Regions from separate parts of the Homo sapiens genome. Here region 2 is linked to region 1. Evidence: fine-mapped expression QTL. A gene starts in region 1. The other region holds a variant in brackets. All regions are shown on one strand. Distances are between the middles of the regions.

Region 1 (8,000 bases):
ATGGATTTTGTTCTCCATATGCAAAACCATCTCAGGAGCTTGCGGAGACACCACTTGCTTACTAGCCAGAAAGAGCAGGTGCCTCCTAAATTCCCCACACAGGAGCTCACAGTGGCTTTCATGCACTGGGATTAAGTTAGACTTAAGAAAGCCTGTCTACTCTTCCTGGGATTTACAAGCCAGCTAGTAAATCCCAGAATAAATCACACGGCACAGTCATCCAAAGATCCCGTCATCCGTGCCGTTTGGAAAGCCCTGCTCCTGTGCCACCCTCTCCCCGTGGAGCCTCCCATGCCCAGGACTGCAGAGTCCTGCCATTCAGACTGCAACTCATCTCACATTCTTCCAAACTATTTGGACAACAGAGCTTTCTCATCACCTAATGCAGATTACAGTCTCACAGAATTGAGTGTTCAGGCAGACACTGATGTGGTTCTGTAGTACAGCAAACAATATCAGTTTACAGTCCTGAGGCCAGGCCTGGTGAACAACGCACGGTAGCGGTGGGGCAGGGTTCTCAGAATGAAACTGGCTTACACATGGCACTCTCTGACCACAACTGTATAAGCACCAAACTACACTTAGTTCCATCTATGAGGTAAAATTTAATGCAGATGAACATCAAAGAAAACGTCAAAGGCTCCTTTTTACAAGTACGTGGGCTACTTAATTTGGTCCAAGTCCATTTTAAAAAGCCCTAGGTGCTTTCACGGCTCTGCTACTGACAAGAAGCCCCAGTGCCTGTGAGCTGCTAATGGGAGGGAGAGGAAGATGAGCTGAGTGGGCCGGGCTATCCCGTCCACACCGGGAGACAGGGAAGGAGACTCCAAGCTGGTGGTGCCAGCACATTCCAGGCCACTCAGGCCTATTCCTAGGTGCCAGGTCACGAAAACCACGCTGACAGATCGTGCTGTGTGCGTGTCATAGCACACAAGCAGGACTGTGAGAGAGTGAAAGTGACACTGGGTGGAGCACTGAGGAAGGGCCACAGTGTGTTGGTGGAGATAGGCTGTCATGGAGAAGAGACCCTGGCTTGCTCTACATTGCTTCCAATGCAACTGCAAGGCAGGTCCCAGAGGGCTCCGGCCTTCGTCATCCAGGTTTGCTCCCTCCCCTCATGGCTTTCCCATCCTCAGATGAGGACTCGGCAGAGCCTACCCCTGCTGACTAACTGTGGCCCCAGGGTGGTGACTCAGCCCTGCACCTCCTGATCCCGTCTGCACTGGGCCAGAGAGGATGACTTACCCAGCACGTTCACATCACACAGCTTTGTGGATTCCTAGGTCCAAGGACCAGAGATTTCAGTTATGTGAGTTATTTTTTTTATTTGTTCTTGCGTATTCCACAAAGGGTCGCAGCTAAACTTAACCTAATGATCACTTTAGTATATCACTAAAAAGACAAAGCTCACAGTGCTGTTGAAGCACATTCATCATCTTTAGACATTTTGACTAGTTATTTCTTAAGCATTTACCTGCTAGTGTTAAGCATCACATGAAATACATATAGAAGTAAGACAAAATTTCTTATCTCCCCAAGTTTGCCAACAAATACAGAGCAGGAAGGGAAGCAGGTCAGAGCAGGAGGCGCAGCTATAGTGAGGCCACCATGCAAGGCACAGGGAGGGTGAGCTCCAAGTTTGAATGGAATGGGTCTGTCAGCCAAGCCCCCTGGCTCTGGGAAGATAGCAGTGAACAAGCCAGATGGCCCCTCACCCTCCAGAGCCGTGAGTCCTGCAGACCAAACAGCGTGACAGGTCCTTTCCCTGTCCAGGAGGCCTCTGTGGGTGAGAGTTGGCTGCGGACAGGGCGTGAAGGCACTTGAGGGTGGGGAAGTGACTCTGACTGGGAGATGCTGAGGACAGGGAGGAAACCACCAGATAAGGGACACTGGGGAGGAGGGGTGGACCCCTCAGGGCCAAGCACATGGAGCCTCATCACAAAGGCAAGATGGTGGCCAAATTCAAGGTCGCTGCAAAAGGAATGGAGAAGAGAGAATAGATTTGGCATTTGGAGGAAATGGTGACAATCATGAGCACCTACCCGGGACTCTCCATGGGTGCTATCTCTACATAAACTCATTCCACCCTCTGATTAATCCATTCTACATATGGGGAAACAAAGGCATGCGGTGTTTACGTCACTTGCCAAGATCTCAGGATTTGATCCAGGTGGCCTGGTTCCATGGTGCAGCCTCTCAGCCTGCATGGATGCCCCAGCTCAGAGCATGACTCTCAGGACAGGGGTCCCAGCAGCCCTCCCTCCCTGAGCAGCAGGGTGCCCGTGCTGCACCACTTCTGTCTAGGAATAGGACATTCTGACACTTTCCTGCCTCTTCCGAGGTCTAGCACTTACTCTATGCCTGCCTGGGAAGGTGGCAAGCTGGCCTGAGGAACAGACTCTTCCATTTTTTAGGGAGCTCAAGGCCACAGATGCTCTGAGATCTGGAGTCCAGAGACAGGAGCGGAGGCTTCTCCTGGTGACCACTCTGCTTAAAAACTTCATCAGATCCGTAGTTTCAGAGCCCCCCTGAACCCCATCCCTTACCTCTACCAGTTGCAGGTGGGTCTCTGGGGTGGGGCTGCCCTCCCCACCAGCACCCCAAGGGCTAAAAGGTTGAGGGGAGAACACCATCATTTGTACAGGGGGATCCTGGAAGATGAGGCCTGAGAAAGCCCTGCGGGGCCCCTCACCTTCTCCCTAGCTGTGGCCAAGAGTGTCTGGCCTTGCCTGCCTCAGGACCAGCCCAAAGTGGAGGTGAGAGGTGAGCCCCAGCCCCCAGGGGAAGGGTGATGGTGGTCTTGGTCTCAGCATGGTTCTGGTAGAGGTGGGTTATTTTGAAGATGATGAACCTTAAGCCTCTTTCTGATCTTGCTTTAAATAAATACTTCTGAACAACAGCAACAACAGAATAGTGTTGATAGGAAAGCCCTCCACTCCACCAGAACCACGCGGCCTTCTCGTCCTCCCCTCCTCCACTTCCTTCCTAAGTCACTGCTCCATGAGCTCTTCCACAGGAGATTTACAAAATAGAACACAAACAATCCAGTTCCCGCCTCTCACTCTGAACTCCTCCCAAGACTCGTGGGGTGCGGCAGCCCCTGGGAACACCCAGCCCTTCAAGGTCAAACACAGCCCCCGCCCCTCACTCTGGGGTACCCTGCCAGAATAAGCCCCGACAGCCATGTGGAGCAGAGCCTTCTTTTTTGTAAGTGGAAGTTCCAGGCTGGCTTTTCAAATCCCCTTTTAACCTCAGTGCTGTATTTCAAAATTCATTCCAGTTTTCCTGTAGTAATTAACAAAAATAAATATTTTAATTTCAATTAAAGTGAGGGTCTCGGAGAAGAAGCAGGAACTGAGTTTCCTGAGAGGCCCCGCTGAGGCTTTGTTGATATTTCTTCCTGCGACCTCTGCTCGGACCCTGGGAGCTCACAGGCCGTATCGCAGCTCTTATCTTTGGGGACCAGTTAAAGCATAACTGCGCCAGGCACAGAGTTGTCCTTTCAAATGTGCCGGCAGTGGGACGGAGACCCATGCGTCAAGTCTCCTCTAAGTTCACATGGGATTCTCTCCTTGTCCCAAAGCTGTCTCTGACTTAAAACCCTCCAACTGATTACCTGAATTCCAGAATATGTCCTGTGCTCTCTGCCCTTTCCCACGCCTTTGGTGAAGACCGGTGTTCTGAGGAAACAGACACTGTGTAGAAATGGCTCAGGTCCTTTAAAGCCCTGGTGTGAGGAGTGGGGAAGGGCTGGGCCAGAGGTCAGCTGGATTTGTTAGATTGACAGAGTGACGCGGACTTCCCCAGAGGCACGGGACCAAGGTGCATGCTCACGCTGTCTCATGCTCTCACACATAATGTGTGTGTGTGTGTGTGTGTATATATATATACACATATACATATATATATATACACACATATGCATATATATAAAACCCCAAGCAGCCTCTGGCTTAGCAGGTGCATTTCCCAGCAGGGCAATTAAAGCCATGGTCCCAGTAGTGGTCTTGGGGTCTCAGGGTATTTGGTCTGTGCAGCCACATGCTTCAGTCTCTGGACCCCAGGTCATCTAACGAGGTGGTCGTGTGGGGACTGGGATAGAAAAGGTGTCTGCACGGACGTGTGTGAAAGGGCTGGCACATCGCCAGTGCTCAGCACTGTCAGCTGCTATCACCAGTCATTCAATCATTCATTCATTCAGTTGTTCATTCTTCAACAGGCCGTTTTAAAAATGTGCCCAGTATACCAAAATCTCCGCTAAGCATTTAAAGAGGCAGAATGAAAGTTAGCAGTGGTGGTGAAACGAAGCTGGGAATGTGCTCTGAGGGCCTCCTTGTGGGCTTAATGAATATGTAGAAACCACGCATTTTAAATAGAGAGGGAGAAAGGGAGAGGTTCCTGGTCCTCTGCATGGGGACTTGTGTGTGGCTCTTTACTGTAGGCCTGTGCCACTCCTGCTCAACAGCTACCACAGAGGACGCCTTCAACAAATGTGAAGAACGAACAAAAGGTACAAATGTGAAGAACGAACAGGGTAGAAAGAAAGGAGAAAGCAAGGGTGAGGGTGAGAAATCAAGGGACAGAGAAGAGAGAAGAGGAGATAGCCTGGGAGTTCACACAGCCAAGAAGGTAGACACTCAGTTGAACCAGCAAGAGGCTGAGCCTAACTCTCCCTTTCGAATGGGCAGGAGTTCATGATATTTAATAAACAGAGGCCTTGCTCTGTAAGAGACAGGGTACCAGGCAGAGAGCAAGTCAGCATCGCAGGAGTCAAACGAGGCAGACAGCGGGGGCAGGGAGCTTGCCTCTGAAGGAGACCCAGGCTGCCAGAGTAGCAGGGAGTCTGGGCCAGTCCTCTTTTGGGAAGCGCTTCCTCGGCTTCTGCCCCCCCTCTCCTCTCCCTTTCCACCCACCATCCTGACATAATACTTCCTAATCTGGAAGTGTTGTCCAGAGAAGAACCTGCTCATTTCCTCTTAAGTAGGCAGGGAAGCACTAACGTCCAGCAGCATCGGAAACCCGTAGGAGCGCTCTCGGCAGTGCAGGGTGAGGGGACAGTCCATGTAGTCATGAGACGTGGGTGTCAGGCAAGCGTCTCTTTTCCAAAAGAGAAAAACATTAAAGGCCTCACAAACGGCGCCCAAAGACTAATTCTGCATAGCATCTTTGCGAGACCCTAGGTTCTTATGATGACTGGTTTTGCCTGAGAAAGAAAAAATTTTAATTTTGCTCTGACATGCCAATTCAACAAATCATTTTCACATAATATTCATGCAAAAAAAAAACAATTTGCCAGAAAACTTGGGAATCCATCCACATCTACAGCTTTTCCCTGCAGTCACACTACAGTGGGATCCCTCCATACAGGAGCGGCAGAGTGGAGCAGGCTAGAGATGCCTGTTTGTTTCTGTTTGCTGCACCGCAGCAAGCATTTCTGTCGTGCCCACTCTGTACTAGAAAGTACATGAACATCAGCCATAAAGGGAACTAGAAAGGTGGCCCACCCTCTTGGTGGAGAGAGAAGAGAGTGTGGTAGAAACAATAATAAGAAGTCTGCAGAACTTGACCCCTCCCAGCCTCTCCCACCTGCCAGCCTGGCCCTTGCAGAGAGATGCAGGCTGCCATTCTTAGGCCAAAGCCTGGGACAGTTGGGCTCAGCAAGGTAGGCATCCGTCAAGCAAGGAGGAGCAGGGGTCAGCAGTGACCCCAGCAGCCAGCAGGGAGAAAGGTGCATGTGACAAGGACACCAGAGGCCGTGGGTCAGGATCAGCCAGGGTCAGGGTAGCATTTCTAGGAATTCACTCTGTTGGGCGCTGTGCTGGCTGCTTCTCACATATTATTCCTTTCTTACTCTCAGAGCAGAGATTTCAATTGCAGCGAGATTGTGGAGGCAGCCAGGGAGGTGGGGAGGGTGGTGTCTTCTAAAAGCATTTTCAGTATCCATGTGGTTTCAGTAATAATAATAATAATAAACCAGTGAAAAGTAAAACAGGACAAAAATCTTCATAGGCAGTGAACCATATCAGAGAGTCCAAGAAAGCACAATGAGAGTGTGGCTTAAAAACCCTGAACGACATTCCTTTGCACCAGCTTGGTGAGGAGGGCATGGTCCCCGCCACCCCCCACCCCCACTTTGCAGATAAACCACATGCAGGAAGGTCAGCCTGGCAAGTCCAGTAAGTTCAAGCCCAGGTCTCAACTGGGCAGCAGAGCTCCTGCTCTTCTTTGTCCTCATATACGAGCACCTCTGGACTTAAAACTTGAGGAACTGGATGGAGAAAAGTTAATGGTCAGCAGCGGGTTACATCTTCTTTCATGCGCCTTTCCATTCTTTGGATCAGTAGTCACTAACGTTCGCCAGCCATAAGTCCTCGACGTGGAGAGGCTCAGAGCCTGGCATGAACATGACCCTGAATTCGGATGCAGAGCTTCTTCCCATGATGATCTGTCCCTCACAGCAGGGTCTTCTCTGTTTCAGGGCATGAACTACTTGGAGGACCGTCGCTTGGTGCACCGCGACCTGGCAGCCAGGAACGTACTGGTGAAAACACCGCAGCATGTCAAGATCACAGATTTTGGGCTGGCCAAACTGCTGGGTGCGGAAGAGAAAGAATACCATGCAGAAGGAGGCAAAGTAAGGAGGTGGCTTTAGGTCAGCCAGCATTTTCCTGACACCAGGGACCAGGCTGCCTTCCCACTAGCTGTATTGTTTAACACATGCAGGGGAGGATGCTCTCCAGACATTCTGGGTGAGCTCGCAGCAGCTGCTGCTGGCAGCTGGGTCCAGCCAGGGTCTCCTGGTAGTGTGAGCCAGAGCTGCTTTGGGAACAGTACTTGCTGGGACAGTGAATGAGGATGTTATCCCCAGGTGATCATTAGCAAATGTTAGGTTTCAGTCTCTCCCTGCAGGATATATAAGTCCCCTTCAATAGCGCAATTGGGAAAGGTCACAGCTGCCTTGGTGGTCCACTGCTGTCAAGGACACCTAAGGAACAGGAAAGGCCCCATGCGGACCCGAGCTCCCAGGGCTGTCTGTGGCTCGTGGCTGGGACAGGCAGCAATGGAGTCCTTCTCTCCCTTCACTGGCTCGGTTTCTCTTAGGGACCCTCACAGCACTAAGGGGTGCGCGTCCCCTGTCAGGCCCTCGAATGCCCTCCCACAGCCAGGCCCCTCTGAGGTTTCACTCTGGCCTGCTTGGCTCCTAGCAGCCACCAACCCATGATGCTGGGCCCTGAAAACACACGCAGACCTGGATGAGTGAGGCCACTGGGCACAACCAGGGCTCCCAGCTCACCAGAGCAGCCTGGGACACAGAGGGTGCTCAGAAACCTACCAGAGCAGCCCTGAACTCCGTCAGACTGAAATCCCCTGTTGCCGGGAGGAGGCGCCGGGCCTGGGGGACGGGTCCTGGGGTGATCTGGCTCGTCTGTGTGTGTCACTCGTAATTAGGTCCAGAGTGAGTTAACTTTTTCCAACAGAGGGAAACTAATAGTTGTCTCACTGCCTCATCTCTCACCATCCCAAGGTGCCTATCAAGTGGATGGCATTGGAATCAATTTTACACAGAATCTATACCCACCAGAGTGATGTCTGGAGCTACGGTGAGTCATAATCCTGATGCTAATGAGTTTGTACTGAGGCCAAGCTGGCTTTTATTGTTAGTTAATTTACATTATATCCTCTGACATGCAAGTATTTTCTTTCGAGATAATGACTAATGATAATGTAATCATTGCTGTCTATCTATTGTACTGAGAAAACACGGCAGAGGAAATCGAGTCCAGCTGCCGTCCAAAAGTCACTGGAGATTGCAATGAGCTCGTCTGGCAGGGTGGGGGGTATGGGAGGGAAAGAGCTTAGGAAACGGCTCTCCCTGCAAAGTCCAACCAAACTTTAACGTTAACCAAACCATTAATGTTGCCATGAATTTGAAGTGAACCAGAGGGAGGTGGCAGAAGAAGCTTAATGGGGAATAGTTCCGGTAGAGAAATGAGGCTTAA
Region 2 (16,591 bases), 64 kb before region 1:
CCTCAGAGTGGCGTTGCTGGGTCAGAGGGTACTGGTCGCTTTAGTAGCTTTGAAAGATATTGCCAAAACATTTTCCAGCGCAGTTATAGCAAATTATACACCACCAGCAGTAGAAAACATCTCCTAATTGCTCACAGTAAACCCCCAAAGATTGCCACATACATCTTCCATATCAATTACTTAACTATTCAGCAAATTTGAAGGGAAATATATTTAATCTTTTTATTCAAATAGTTTATAAAGTGGAATAGAGATGTGGGTAAAAGTTGTCTTGCCACCTTTTTAGATCGGTAAAAGTTTGTTGAATGCAGGCAAGAAAAGATGAGAAATAATGGTACCCAATGAAAGACATAGCAGTCTACAAGGAGGGGCATTTCCCGGGGTGGGGGGGACCCACACTCTGTAACTCCCACATTCAATTAGCATGTTATAGGTAAGCTGCAGAAAACGAGGCAGCTTGTCAAAGAGGAACGGCTCTTGGCCATGGTTGCTGCCCTAGGAGGATATTTGATACTAGCAGAGCTGGGGCAACCCTGGAGGAAACCACCTGGAATGATGGGAGAACTCCTCCAGGGAACATGGCCCTTTAATAGATCTCTGTTATAAAAAATAATCCCAAAGCAGCCACCAGGGCATACTGCTGCGATCAAGTCCTAGGCGGTATTCCCTTCTGCGCCATAGACCCTGTGCAGAGTGCCCTCAACGAAGGAGCAAGGAAGACCAAGTCTCCCGAGGGTTTGCATATGTGTATGTGATTCTGCAGTCATGGTGAATGACACAGTCAGGGCTGCGGAAAAGCATTGGTAAAGTGTATATTTGAGGCTTCAGAAGTTTGAAAAGGCTAGATTTCCTAGGCCAAAACACTGAAAATTTGCAATTAGAACTTCAGTGCTGATGCTGGGAAGACTGGAGTTAGTTTGAGACATGCACCTGTGCAGAACTGGGCCCCCAGAAAAGGAGAAGGAAGGGAATCCAGACCAGAGTAGGGCCTGACACCACTCAGACTCGGCGTGTCTATAAATTAGAATTGCGTTACAATTACACTTTGACATTTTAGTGGTTTTTAAAGTGCCCAGCACAAGTTAATTTTTCATTAATGAATCCTTTATTCATAAAATGCTTAGATGGAGATTACCCTTTTGAGCATTTTGCCAGTGCTTCTGAAATTAATGGGGACCTCCTGTTGGAGGACACAGTCTGTTGCAATAGGTGACCACTGCTCTGAATCTATGTCACCTCTCCAGGACCACGGGCACAACCATCACCTGAGGCATGTTGGAGATGCAGATGGTCAGGCCCTCCTAGAATCTCAGAATCTGCATTTTAGCAAAGTCCTGGGTAATTCCTATGTCCATTGGAGTTTGAGAAGCACTGGTAATCTCAAATACTTTAAAAGATTACTAGAGTAAGATAGGCTCAGTAGGTACCTGAAGGCACCATCCCAAAGACCAGAGTGGTAGAAGCAGGTGGACCAGCCTCTGAACACATTTCTCCCCCACTCCCCGGCTGTGTGGAAGGTTGCCACCTTTGGGGTAGTCATTCAACAAACACGTGTCAACTGTCCACTATGTGTCAGGCCACCACTGGGCACTGGCTGTGGCTAGCTGGATAGACACCATTTCTGCCCTCCAGAAATGTCATGTCCACTGGCACATGACAAGTCACTAAGTCATTCAGAGCCATGGGTGACAGCTCCAGGGGCCGACAAAGGAGCTGTGATCTCACAGATCCACAGAGAAGTGTCCCAGGGCGGGCGGGAACCAGGACTGCACAGGGAGGGGTGAAGTGACACATAAGAAGTCAGCCCATCAGCCTGAAATGCTCCCCCAAATCTTCCCATTCAGTGTTTTCTCAGTAGCAAACTCGTGGGAAAATTGGTTATTTTACTTAAAAAACTCATACTAGAAAGCTAGTTTAACTTTAAAAATAAATTTTAAAAACATTTTTATTAACAAATCCTACCTTTCCTCCAAAGTCAAGGAGAAAAGAATAGAAGTGAACAATGGACCAAGTAAGCCTAAAACTCTGCTCTTTCCCCTGCTCATTTTACAGTTCAAGTGCCATTCAATTTATCCTGGCAAGAAGAGGAAGGCATCATCAAGACCTTAATTTTCTAATACATCTGATCTGAGAAGAATGTGAAAGCTATAAAATTAATTTTTGATCAATAACTACAGGCCTTTTGAGAGAGTGCCCTCCTAATGAATTGAGTACCTATTTCTCCATACACAGTGTCTATCATGACCTACAAACCCTTTTCCCATGAGGTGTAACAGAGAGAGATTACAGCCTTGGAACTGGATGTCAGACTCTCCTGGTTTAAGACAATAAGCCATGACATAGAGCCTGAAACCAACACAATCTTCCGAGTGGTTCCAGAAACATATAGGGGATAATGTTGGCTCTGATGCTGTACATCCCCAACAACCATCAACTATTTGGAAACTAGAATTTCAGCATAATTGGAGTTGGTGTTACCCTAGCAAATGCTGTGGGAAGAGAGTCTCACTGTGTATCTTCTCCTGTTTAAAGCCTGAATTTGTTCAGAATGTAATATCTCTGTTTAGCCACTCTACTGAAACTGATCTAGGAAATGTTCAAAAAAAGGTATCCCAAGGATCCCTTTGTAGCTACATCTGTGGGATTCCCCTCGCTCTGGCGTGGCCTGGCCCCTCTGCATTTGACAATACGGTCCTATGCTTTTGTCTTCCTGGGCTGCGTGAACCCACCCTGCCCTGGTTCACCTCTCCTCTTGACCCATCCTTATCAGTGTCTTGAAAGGTCCTTCTATTGGAGGACACATTCTGTTGCAGCAGGTGACCACTGCCCCAAATCTGTTTCACCTCCCCAGGGCCATGGGCACAACCATCCCTGGAGTGTGTTAGAGATGCAGTTGGCCAGGTCCTCCAAAATCTCAGAATCTGCATTTTTGCAAAGTCCTGGGTAACTCCTATGTCCATGAGAGTTTGAGAAGTACTGGTCTCATGAGTTCCTGACATACAAATAGTGCTGAGGCCAGTATGCTGACTGGGTAGCCAGATACAAGTGAAAACCTTCCTGTTTTTTGCAAACCTGGATGGACCCGAGGCCGCTGACGTGGGCCAGGACAAGCTACTCTTTTTCAGTGTTTCTGTTGCATCGCTGTGTCTCTCTGTGATCAGGTGCTGCCCTCCCTGGCAGGAGGACTGCAGACAGGATGACCAAGAGCACTCTACACAGCCTGCTCTCCAGTGTTGGGGGACGCCACCCACCCTCGTGGTTCCTGTTCATCTGCCTACACGTGGAGGGCCCAAGAGGGCTAATATGTGACTATCTCCACTTCCTGGTACCCTGTGTGAATAACTTCACTTACTAAAGGGATGTTGAGCAACTTTATTAATAATGAAGAAAGCACTTTGGTTTGACAAATAATCACTCCATTTTTTCATTTGAAAGTTAACTCTTGTTAGTAGAGAAAGCAATGTATTACAACCACAAGGACGTTTACATGGAAATGAACCATCTGCAAAGCATCCCCCATTTTCCTTTTAAATCAGCCAATGGGTGGTGGTGGGAGAAATATTCACCAGAGTATTTAACATCTATCCCCCTTCCTAGACTGTCAGCTCCATCCGGGCGGAGACTGTTGGTATCTCCACAGCACACACAGGGCCTGGCACACATCCGGGGCTCAGTGAGCACTTGCTGAATGGTGAACAGATTAGCTCTCCTGGGAACGTTGTTGACACATCTCATAACACTGGTTTGGAGTGGAGGGCATTCATCGGGCTGCATATTCCTATTTTTAATTGTATTCTCCACTGGTTACAGCACCTACAGTTATAAAGACATTGTTAACATTGCTTATAGGAAGACATTTGATGGAAATGAGTCCAAAGGCATTACGGTTAGAAACTGGCCAGGTGTCATTTTTGAGAGATTAGATAACTGTTTTCCGGTAGAGTGAATTGCCTGTTTGTTGCAAGTTGGGACTTTGCTGGGCTGGTTTACAGGGCCAAGGGGAAAGAGATAAGTGGATCTTCTAGTGAGAGGTCATCTGTTTTGAAAGCCTGGAAGATTCCATGAACTAAATCCAAGTCTTACAACACAGGGAAGTGTGTCATACTGTGCAGGGATGAAGTCTCCAATTTAGCATGAAAACAAGAGCTCCTCACACTGTCCTCTTCAGAAAGCCCATACAATCCAAACTTCTGAATGCTTAGCTGCTTACAACCATACATAGATTGAGGGATAAAACTCTGATATGGAAGAGAAGGTAAACATTTTTTGGCAGACATTCCCAGGAAAAGGCGGCTCTCTTCTCTCATTGCTGCTGCTCTTTCAGAATCCATTTCAACAGAGGAGGAGTCAATGGGAGCCCCGTGCCTCTGGCAGATATCATATGGCGTTTCAGTGGCATTGTGTGTTACCCTTCTTAGGTAACAGCTCAGCCATTAGAAGAATGTCCTACACACCTTCTCATTTTCTGTGATGAGAGGAATGTGAGGTACTGCCCTTCGAGAGCTGTCATTTGTCCTAGTAGCCAGCAGCGTGACTGTGCTGTCTTCTGCTCTGTCTCCCTGTCAGCCTTCTGCCCAGCCACCACCACTATAGTTTTGTTCTCTCCATTGGAACTCCTGGTTCAGAGAATTACCATAAAAAACAGACCCCTAGACATACAACACTCTATCACATAATGGTGACTTTGTCTTCTATTTTGGATTACTGAGCTTTCTTGGGTAACTTCCACTAAATCGAAGTTAATATTAGAAGAACTTCCTCTTACTAGAATCGAAAAGCATTTAAGTGATGCAGTCAAGTTTGTACCATAAGTAATTCAGTCATTTAACAAATATATATGGCCTCTGTGCGACAGTGACCTTGACTGGGAATGAAGCTGTCCCATGTGGGGCCTGTTCTTCAAAGGCAGTTCCCTGCTGCCCAGTTCAGTCCAGTGGATCTGGGCATCTCTCTTTAATCCGCATTAGGGGCTCTTTACTGATTCTTCACTATCCAAAAAGACTTGGAGGGGAGACCTGAGCCCACTTCTGGAAGGAAATGATAACAATTTATTTAGATAATCTTTGTGCAACAAGTCAATTCACTGAAGAGATCTGCTCTCTAGGAGCCTCTGTGACCCCACCATAACTGGGAAGGCTCTACCTCTCCAGTCTTCGGGCCACATTTCTCTCTGGCCTGCTGTCTTCCCAGCACTCTCAGCCTTGCTCATGGAGCACTCTAGTCCTCCGTCGACCTTGGCCTTTGGTAACGTGATTTTTCACCTGGCAGCTCCCATCTGGTCTCACTCCCTCTTTTTGTCCAGTCTGCATGACACAGCCTCACATCGTTAGTGTTCCCTCACTCCCCTCTTACTGCCCAACCTGCAAAGTCCATGCCTGGGCCAGTGCAGCATGTGTCCTCAATGGGCTGCTGGTGGCAGTGGGGGGAACCGCACAGCCACGCTGTGTGCTGCTGAAGAAATGCACAGCCTCCTACCCTCGCCCTCAAGAGGCAGCCATGGCTGCGCATTTCTGCCCTTCTGAGCTCCGCTCACTTTTGGCAGCAGCCGTTCCAACCTGCATGGGATCTTCACTCTCTCACAGATGTGCTGACTCCTCCTGCTGCCTCCCCTCTCTGTGCCTTCTCACTCTCTGTTCCCTTTGCCCTTTCTCCCCTTTTCTCCTCTGCCTACCTCCAAGCCATCCATCACAGGACAGCTCAAGCATCAGATCCTCTGGGACACTTTCCTTAGTTGTTCAGTCTGATGAGGTGTCCCTCATCCTCTCTTAGCTGAAAATCAGCAGCTGCCTCAACTTCTTTTCCAGCATGTCTCATGAGTATTGCCACAACAGCATCTGTCACAATGTGGGGTAGTGGCTGACTTGCTTTTCTGCCATTCAACTGAGTTCCCTCAGTGCTGGGGCCAGCGTGCAGTGTCTTGTATTCAGTATATAGCTGATTAATTGATGAATTGATTAATTAATGGTTCACACTAGCACAGTGCAACCTTCAATGCAAAGATCTCATCAAAATAATTCACATGGTGGGATATTTTAGAAGGATGACCAGGCTAGTTTGTAGTAAGAAAAAATCAACAAGACTAGGTCAGGAATTCTTTTTTTGTCTACAGGCTTGCTATAGAAGATATTGAAAATCATCTACCTAATTACCTTTATTTTATCAGGTTGTGTATTAAATATCACGTCTGGGGGAAGAAAATGTGATATGTGATTACAGACCTTTCCTGGTACAACATAGTACGTTTCAGATTAACTCAAGGTATTGTGGTGATATTGCGGTCAAAGCCAGGTGATTAAAGAGTCATTCTTTGAAACAAATATCTGTGCAATCAATTAAGAAATTAATTTGCAAATTTTATTTGCTTAGAGTAATTGATATATCATTCCTTTTACAAACAAATATAAAGAAAACTTAACTAAAAATACTGCATATCTCTTTCAGATTATATATCCCAGAAAGGATATATTTTTCTCCTTTCTGGTCTTCCTTTTTGGTGTAGCATCTGTAGGAAATGCATTTCTTCATAGCTAAGTGTACCTCCTTGTGAAATATCTTCAGAGTCTACTGGTGCACATAAGCAATTGCTGGCAGCAGCTTGAGGGTCTCCATCTCACATTTATCATATGCCTTATTGCATGAGGCTTTGCAAGAGGAGGTCTAGAGCTACAATATCTCATGGATATGAATGTCAATTCAAATCCCAGTGGCAGTTTATGAGGGGGAAAGCCTAGAAGAGAAGAAACCTAGAGGAATCAAGCAGGAGGGGAGAGTAATAAAAGACTAGAGCAGCAGGTTTTTCTTAACTCAAACTAGAATTAAATCTCTGTGTGTGTGTGCATGTGAATGTGCCCGTATGTGCATGCATGCACGTGTGTAAATGGATGTGTGTGTGTGTGCATGTGTGTGCAAGTAAGTGTGTATACGTGTGTGGGCATGTATTGTGTACATGTATGTGTGTTTTATGCATCTGTTTGCAAGTATGTGTGTATGCACATAAAAGTGTGAATGTACATGTGTGCTTGGTGTATGTGTGTGTATTAATGTATGCGTGTAGTTCTAGAGTCTAGTTAGAGAAAGTGCATAAAGAAATAGGGAAATTAACAAGAAAGCTATAGCTTAAATTATAGGAAAAACTTTTCTCCCTATCAGTCATGGTTTTAAAATGTTCAGACTTGATATGTTTCCCAGTGCTATTGTCAGAAAATGTCCCTATGACATTCCATACTACTTCAATCAAATCTAAAACCTTTGTTCCAACATGTTTTATTGATATGAGTATATTTCAAATTTCTACCAGGTTTTTGGAGAGGTATTTTGGCCATAAAATTGACTAAATTATTCAAAATAAAAAATGAATAAGCCTGGGCCAAGGCTTGGAGACTTGCTTAACTCAGTTCTTAAATTTTCAGATTTTCAAAATTACAAATTTAAGCTCTAAAATCATGGTGCTGTGTATGATATTCTTTGATTGCAACTTATGGTTGAAAAACTATAGAGGGCTTTATGCTAAGAGTTGTGGATCTTAGGATTTTCATGAAATCTGCATTATCATCATCTGCAAGTTTAGATGGGGCATAACTGATCCAAAGGATGGATCCCTCGGGGGCAATTCAACTGGCTGATTCCAGCCAAGATGACAACAGTCAGGATCCGTTCCCTTCTGATCATCCATTGGGTGCCCTGATTTCCTCTACAGCCCTAGCTGAAAGACCAGACACTATCTCAGGCTGGCTGCCCCACATGCCTTGCTCCACACCAAATTCACAGTCTATAAACCTGAGCCTCCAGTGCTCCTACTACCATACTCACTCGAACATTCCCGATTCTGACCTGGAGATGTCAACAGCTACTTGATGCCACTCTCTTCTATCTTTCTGTAGCTAAGCCATCCCCAAGTTTGTCGATTCACCCTCTTTAACC[C/T]CTGTCGGGGTGTCCATTGTGCCCCTTCACCCTGCCATCTCCCTGGTGCACTGTTTTGCAAAGTTCAGCATACATGAGCGTCACCTGGGAACCTTAATAAAGTGCAGATGTTGATTCAGCAAATCTGGGATGCCCTCGGGCTGCATTTCCAGCAGGCTCCTGGGGATGTCCCCGCTGCTGTGCTGCAGATGACACTCTCAGTGGTGGGACTCCAGGCTCTGCTGTCGCCTCCTAGGGGTTTCTCCACACTCCCTGGAGGCCTAATGGGCCCTTCTCCACATGGCAGTAAGATCTGTTTTTGTGTTTGTGTTTCAAGTTGGGAGAAGGAGATTATTTAATACTAAAATGTGCAACATGGGATTGAGAAAACTAATTATTAGTCATAAGTTGAGTATGCAACATTGAAACCACATGCTTTAAAAAATTATAAGAAAAAATCATAGTATTTGAAAGTTACAAGCTATTATGGCTAACTCCATTTATCTCAGTTAGAGAAGAAGAGTCACCTGTCACCAGGGCACTGCCAGAAGCCAGGCTCATTTCCAACAGCACTGGGTGCTCCAGCTTTGGGGTGCCAGCTCCTCCCATAAAGCAAACACATACCTAGGGATGATATTTCTTTGCAAGGGCTCTGCCCTACAGCTTGTACATCTCAAGAAGTTATGTAATTAAACTGTCTGTTTTGAGAAAATTGTAGATTCACACATACTAGCTGTAAGAAATGATGCGGATAAATCCAGCGTACCAGCTTTCCCCACGGAGACGTCTTGCAGCGTCACAGCCAGGATGAGGCATTGACCCAGGCGAAGTCCAGAGCACCTGTGCGCTACAGGGCCCCTTGCACTGTGCTGTCACAGACACGCCCACTTCCAGATGCCATCTAGGACCCCCTCCAAAAAGCAGAGGCATTCTTAAAAACACACATCTGCACATGTTCCTCTTCATTTGAATCTGTCAGTGGCTTCTCAGTGCCTTTCAAATGAAATCTAAAGTCCTTACAAGCCTTGCAGCAGGAACCTCTCCATCCCACTTCCCCTCACACTCTCAGCTTCATCTCTGCTAGGCTCTGTTCAGCCAGGCAGCCTTTCACAGTCCCTCTCCTCCTGCCCTGCCAGGAAGGTCCCCTGCCCCCAACTCTTCCCCACATGTGGCGGGGCCCCGCTTGTCCTTAGAAGCCCAGCTGAACTGCTTCCTGAAGGAACCCCTCCAGAACCTCTCAGACCAGGTCAGGTTTCTGCACTCTTAGATCATCCCCATGGCATAATCACAGTTGTGATGTTGTGATGATTCAGTGAATGTCTGTCTCCCCACTGGATGGTAAGCTTCCTGAGGGCAGGAACAGCATTGGTTCCAGTCAATGCTATGTCCCAGGACTGTTCGTTTTTGCACATACTAATCCTAAAAGGACGATGACAACAGCAACCACTTACATGACCTAGATGCTCTTCTGGGTGTTGTGCAAATATTAACAATTTAATCCTTGCAACAATCCACGAGGGAGGCATTCTTCTACTCCCACTTAACAGACAAGGACAGTGAAGCTAGTAAAGAGAAGTCATTTGCCCAAGGGGACCCCACTACTGTTGGCAGAGCTGGGTGCAAACGCAGGCTTGTGAAGCCAGGACCCATGCATTCAAAGACCATGCCAGGTGCCCCCACTGCACACCTCATCCCCACATACCAGTGAGGGGGAGAGAAATGCTCCTGCACTGCCTCTGATTAACTGCTTTCCTAGAAGTCACACATATAAAAGGGATTTAATTCTAGTGGGATTGAATCTCAATAGTTTCCTTATTAGGTTGATTTCTGTTAATAGTTTAAGTACTGGATATACATGAATTAGAAAATCTAGATTATTAGCAAATGCAAACTATAAAGTATTTTATAAATGTTATCTTGTTTGTCAGGGGATGAGTGAGATATTCATTATACAAAAAGTAGTGTGGATTTTGAGGTAGAAGGTTTACTAAGGATCATACCGTAGTATGAAATAGCCACAAACATTCAGTGAAACCAAACACCCCCGCTTAACCTCAAACTAACACTAAATAATAAGGAATAGACTTGGGGGCAGTGCAAGTGTATTTCTAATGGTGAAAACCATTCCCCAGTGAAAACTAATGTACCATCTAGTTAATAAGAGCTCCTCTGACCCACGCACATCAATACTTACATCCCAATGGTGATGTGACATTTTGGGTTTTGTATTTCTTTTGCAAATTGAGCTAGCATTTTTGATGAGTGGCAGGGCTCTGCTACCCAACCTTTGGACAGTTTCCAAGCATAAAATCACAATTCCAGATAATTCTGTCACAAAGATCTGGGTCTCATTAGGAAGGAGAGGAAGCTGGGAGATGATCCAGTCCAACCTCCCCCAAACCAAACATCACGGCCTTCTCAGTTGTTTCACCAACCATCTAAATGTTTTAGTAATTCTAAAAATTGATGCGCTTTTTCCACGAAAGGAAGTGTTACCACATTTTCCAAGTGGGAGGCATCTATATCCTTACTCCTTCATCCTCTCCTTCCCACCCCCTCACCCCCCACCACCCACACAACATCTGCAATTCTTAAACTAAAGCACAAATTGTTACAAAAGTTAATTGCACTTTCAAAGGAATGCTTGTATAGAAACTTTCTCGGCTTCAAGGAAAAATAATACGCTTTGAATGGCTGTTCAACAGCATAGAAATTAGCTGAGTAGAAGGCACTCATATAGCCATTAGGACCAATCCTTTCTGCCGCCAACACCCCCCTTATAAAGACTTGACAGTGGGCCAGAATAAACAACTTCAGGATGAATTCAGTTGAGACACAAAGTACACACTTCCAGTTTTTCCCTTCTCTGGTTACTGGCCTCAATAACCAGGCAGTCAACTTAAAAAGAAAAACAAAAGCTTGCTTCAGATTACAGATTGCAGACTTCTTATAATATGTCCATTTCACCAGGCCCCGCTCTCAGCCCCGGGAAAGGCCACTGGAAACCACCTCACATGGTAGGGCCTTGCGGGAGCCAGTAATAACCTTATCTCCGTCAACATGTTCTGTCAGATTGAATGGGGCAGCCAGAGAAGCCAGAGTTGGCACAGGAACCAAAACAAAGGCTTCCCATCCTCCTGGAGTGAGCGGTTGAGCCTGGATTGGTGCTTAGACCTATAATGGGTGCAAGCAGCGTTCATTCATAGTGGCTTTCTAGACCCAGGGACTTGGCCCCAGCCCTGCTGCTCCACTCCTCTTCTTGCTTCATTACCACGAGTCTCCTAGACCACCGAACGATGCCTGCATTTGAAAGACACTTCTGCTGATCAAAGCAGCTGATGTGTCCCTTTGCGGTTCATTTCTAATTGTCCCCAAGGAGGAGAAATTCAAATAGTTTATTACTGAGAGTTAAAGAAATCCACTGAAATATTCTTTGGTCTAAAATTACTGTCATGGCGGAGCAGCTTCACCTTAGTCATTGCCCTTAAATATGAAAGCTATTTAAGAAAGTTTGCCCTTAAATATGAAAGCTATTTTAAAAAGTTTAATGAAAGAAGAGAATCACAAAACATTTTCAAAAAGCAAAAGAAAACCTAAGAGAAAAGTTGAAAGTAGGAATTTTTTAAAGAATATACGACGTGTGTTCTGTGACTCACCCCTGCAAGTTATTTGTGTGTATTCCCTTGCATAGTAATTAATAATGAAGCAAAGCATGGCAATGATATCTTTTCTTGTCTAGTATTCTAGAAGACTCCATGTTTTTGGAAAATATCACTCTAGTTAGATCTCAAATATATTCAATCAGAAAATGGGTTTTCTACAAGATTCTATATCTGTAGTCAATAGCAAATATAATTCTATTAAGCTAGTAGGATGTGATAGGAAACTAAAACCTAGGGGAGACCAAAGCAAGGAAAAATACTTCCTCATCCAAACTTGAGAGCAATTTACCGTCAGGCCTACTATTAATAGATGGAATACAGATTCCATTTTCATTACTCAACTGCCATATTCATTATTACACTGTACAGAAAAGGGAATCACATCTGTTGAAAACTTATATATGATGTTCATGCATGCATTCCAGTAATTCAACAATTTTTATTTATCTTTTTATTGCTTGCTAATTTTTCAAAATAATAAGCTAAAGAAAACAAAATGTTTGTGCTGTTCTCAGATGACATGTTATCTCTTTAAAGGACAAAATGTGCTGTGAAATAATAGAATGCTTTCAGCACTCAAGTGTGAGTGAGTGCTCATACATGAGAGAAAGCCGTGGGGACTACAGAAGCCAAGAAGCAGATCTAGCTGGGGAGGCCTTTGCAGAGGATGTAGTTGTGTGGAGAGGCCACACACGTGGAATTCCCAGGAGGGCTGTGGAGGCGGGGAATCTGCAGGAAAGCACTGGGGTGAGAAACGTGATGAGAAACAATTATTGTCTTAAAATATCTGCAGGGCTGTAAGGTAGAGAAGCAATACGTTGCATCTGTGTTAAGTCAAACAAAATTATCAAGGGACTGGTTTCAGCTTAACATAAGGAACAATTATGTGATAGGGTTGTCAATAACAAGAGTAGACTGCTTCTTCACACACTCCTAGTCACTCAGAATGGTCCAGGAGGAGTGGACAACCATTTGGTAGAGTATGGGAAGGCAGGGGCCCTGGGTGGGAGTGGTGAGGGTAGGGAGTGAGTATCCCAATCTAGAAGTAAATTGTGCCCAGCACGGAGCTGCAACACTGCCCTGCACACAAACACACACAAATAACAATCCCCAGCCCCTGCATTTCCCTCTCCGGTTTCAGGACCTTGTATCTTACTTCAATTCCTTTATTTAGCTGATGATGAAATAGGAAGAGCTTAGCACTAAGAAAATCCTTTTGGAGTTTGGCCTTGGGGGAAAATGAATCACTCCAACCAGGTCTGTCTTCTAGAAAGTATAGGATGAAAGGGCTCCTCATCACATACTTCCTGACCTCCTGCTAGGCCTTTCCCTAAAACAGGGGCTGGCAAAGCACAACCTGTGGGTCACGCCTAGCCTGCCACCTGTTTTTGCAAATAAAGTTTTATTGGAGCATGACTATATGTATTTGCTTACAGTCTGTGGCTGCGTTCACACTATCCCAGCAGAGTTGAATAATTGGGACAGGGACCATATGATGGGTGAAGCTGAAAACATTTACTCTCTGGCTGTATTCAGAGGAGGTTTACTGAGCCCTTCTCTGAGACATGGCAAGCGCTGCTTCAGGCTCATGCTTCACTAGATTCAGGCCTGGGGCAGTAAAGAGCCAGCTCAGGATAGCACTCCCGACTCACTCATTTTTTCAGGCAGGGGAGCCATCTAATGTCAAGTGCCTACGTGCAGGAACTGGTCTGTTAATTAGCAGCTCTCCTCATGGAAGGGATAATATATTCTAGAAACAGGAGTGCGGCCCTATTGCAAGAATGTCCTGAGCCAAAATTAAGATTCTTCTATGGCAGAAACTTGGCTGGGGCTTCTCCTGAGTTAACTTGGTAGTTGTTAGTGATTTTTGAGTCAGTTTTTCCTTGTCAACGACCCCAGGAATGAGTTTGGGATTACAGGGTAGCCAGGGAAAGGGAAAGCTTCACGCCCGCCCCCGGGACAAGGTCTGTCTTCACACTGCTACATCCCTTCACCCACTTTAAAATGAAACTTAAAAGGAGGATTTCAGTTGAGTAGGAAGTGAGAAGAGGGCTCATTTTAAAACAAGCGTTAAATGAAAACCCACACACACTCAGAGCACACAAATCCAACCACGCTTACAAAACCATCACAGAGGGTCAGGCGAGGCCCTTTTCTAAATGAAAAAGAACAGGGGTGGAGACTGTTCTGAGAGCATGCTGGGTTCCCTGAAGGGAATTCTCAGCTGTATGTGCCCCGCACAGGATCCCTGCTAGACACAAGGCCAGCTGCCTTCCTTTCAAGCCGCAGACGCATCCCTGTGTCCAGGCGGGCTGGTCAGCTGCGGTCAGCACCAGCTTCCCCGCTCCATGGTGAGGTCATCACAACATGTGAGCAGGAGGGCAGGCCGGCAACCTCTGAGTGCTTAGAGAAAGGGACGGGATTCCTCCTGTGCAACCCCTCTAGTCTCACTCAGACTCAAGTCTGACTAAGGGGCCAGGTGCTTTGACCAGGGACTCTCCCCTCTCACTTCCCTCCCAGGAGTCACAGGTACATGAGTCCTTGTTTTACAAATGAAGAAAACAGACCCAACATGATTAAGATGTTGCCTTCATAGGGGTGGCACCAGGATTCCAAACCATGGACTCCACTGAGCCCAGTGCCCACTGACATGTGCCAGTAACAGTGCAGCTGCCTGTGGTTCTGTCGACTAAACTGCCGGCAGAGGCTGGCTTTCCACCTTCTTTTTTTTTTTTTCACTCTTCAAACACTTTATGACATGAACATAAACTACTGGCTGCATCGTTCTGCTGACAACATGACATGTTTCTATAACTTGAAAAAAGCAAGCAGTGGACTGCTCATTGGTAAAATTGAGTCAGTAATCTTTTAGGAAGGTTATTTTTCTTCCTTTTACTGCTTCTCATCTGTTCCCCGCAGTAAAGAGGACAAGATGACGACGACTCAGGGAACACCTCCAGCCTGAAGCAGCACCATGCGAGCTTAGACCTTAGGGTCGGCTTAGAAACCACAGGCGGGGCGGCTTGGGCCCCTCGGACACTCCCTCTCGAAGCTGCTTCTCCCCAAGCTACCCCAAAGGCACTGAGCGCCCTCTGCCCCCCAGCAATTCAATTCACTGGCTGTCCTGCTCCTGTCAGTACTGAGAGTTGCATGTTTGACCCTCGGGGGAAAAGTCCAGAGGCCCTGGGGTGTCCAGCATGCTCTGAGGTCCCTGCTGCTGACCCCTTGCGCTGTCAGCATTCAGAGACATTCACACAGCACAGCCTCCCAGGCTAACAGCTGTCATGGAACAGTGGAGCAGCTAGACGTGGCCATTCTGTGGCCCAGTGCTGCAGAGGTCAAAGGGACAAGCGCAGGGAGCATCTTTGCTTTCAGAAAAAAAAAAAAAAAAAAGAAGCACACTGGTGCACTGACCTGCTCCTGGTGTCTTTGTGATTGCTCTTTTCTTTCGATTTTTGGTTGTCTTTTTTTTTTTGAAAGAGGGGCTTTTATGCTTTTTTCCTAATGTTCATGGGTAAACCAATGTAAATGTGTGTATGTTTATAGAGATGGCTTTAAATCGCAATTCTGCAGTAGAGATTGATTTTTTAAAAAACATGGGTAAAAATTGAAGAAAAATTTTAAAAGAACATTTAAACCATCTTGGGCTAGGGGTGGATATGCACCACCCCACGGAAGCCAAACAAAATCTCTCTGCAGATAAACATTTGCAAAAAGAATTTCCAATCCCAATTTTTGAGTCAGAGATCTTTTATTTCCTTGCAAATTACATATCTGTTTCAGGATTTTTGACTATAAGAAGAATGAATGAAGATGTGTTTCTTACAGATAACTATGAACAAACCAGGAAGGATAATAACTTGTATCCCCCAATTCGAATCCAGAGGATGGGAAGGCATAAAAAAAAGAAATGGAAGAAACTTTATTTTTAGTGGTAAATGGTGGGACTATGTATTTTACGTATGGTGAAGTCACCAAGCCCAACACTTGGCACTTGTAGGCAAGGTAGTCTTCTAATCTGAATGTGAAGTATTATGTTTTCATTTGCTTGGTAATGAGGAATATTGGTGCTTTCGTCCCAGTTCTCGAGCTGACTGACTTCTCTTTCTGACGTGTGTTCCTTTAGCACACCTCTACACTGCATGGCTCTGAGATGTCCTGTGACTGTTTCATGTGTAAAGTTGCCTCCCCAAAGGACTCACATATTCCTTCAGGGCAGTGAGTACTTCTGATTCATCCTTAGCAGCTACCTTCGCGCTACTTTACTAGATATGTTGTAGTTGAATTAATGAACAAAAGAACAAGCAACTTTGGTGCCTGGTGTGCATCTCAGAGCAGGGTGGAGTGAGCCTGGCCAAAGGGTCATCATGCAACCTCTGTGGCTGACTCCATCTGGCCACGGAGCTTCTCAGCCATGCTTGGTATTCACATGACTTCTAGGGCGACAGCTCAACCAGCAAATAAACAGCTTCATATGGGAAATATTACTCAGCCTTTGTCATCAAGGAGTGAGTCACGGGCCTGAACTGAATAGAAGATAGAGGAGAAAAGGTGTGTGGACTGGGTGAGACAGCGCCCAGCGAGGTGAACTCCCGGCAGCCCTGCCTGTCTTTACCTGCACATCACCTTGCTAGGGTGCCTTCGGTTGTGAGGGCCTGTCTAGGAAGAGAAGAGTTGCACCCTGGCAGGCAGCACTGAGCTGTCTCATGCAAAGCTGAGGAAGAAAGAGTGAGCTGCCCAGTGAGCCTGCTGGGGTGGTGGAGGCTGGGCTGGGCTGTGCAGTCTGCAGCCCCCAGCAGCCCTTGGCACCTTTCTACTGCCTGGTGCTCACCAGCTCTCCAGTAACAAAGAGGGACGTGAAGTCAGAGGGGAAGGGAGGTAGCACAGGGCAGTCTTGACTTTGAACAAAGAGCTGGCTTCCTGAAGTCAGCTGGCCGGGTTTTGAAGCCGATTTTCCAGCAGTGATCTTTGATGCCAACCCCATTTAGGAATTCTGTATCTCCCCCTACCTTCTACCAGATGTCTCTGAG

What was found.
Region 2: its variant is fine-mapped to the expression of EGFR-AS1 in sun-exposed skin (GTEx, PIP 0.95).

What each region holds. Positions count from the first base shown.
Region 1 is chr7:55,185,241-55,193,240 of GRCh38, forward strand. EGFR-AS1 (EGFR antisense RNA 1) reads right to left here and starts at 3,709. Exons shown (of 2, transcript NR_047551.1): 1 at 3,617-3,709. It overlaps EGFR (epidermal growth factor receptor), which reads left to right. Exons shown (of 28, transcript NM_005228.5): 21 at 6,479-6,634; 22 at 7,526-7,601. RefSeq lists enhancers at 361-1,134, 6,844-7,729.
Region 2 is chr7:55,117,004-55,133,594 of GRCh38, forward strand. The region is part of intron 1 of EGFR (epidermal growth factor receptor); the gene reads left to right. Among named protein-coding and RNA genes, the nearest start is that of EGFR-AS1, 64 kb to the right of the region's middle. RefSeq lists enhancers at 13,661-13,740, 13,751-13,910, 14,216-15,123, 15,637-16,591, 15,777-16,591. The variant C/T (reference allele first, on the strand shown) is at 7,921.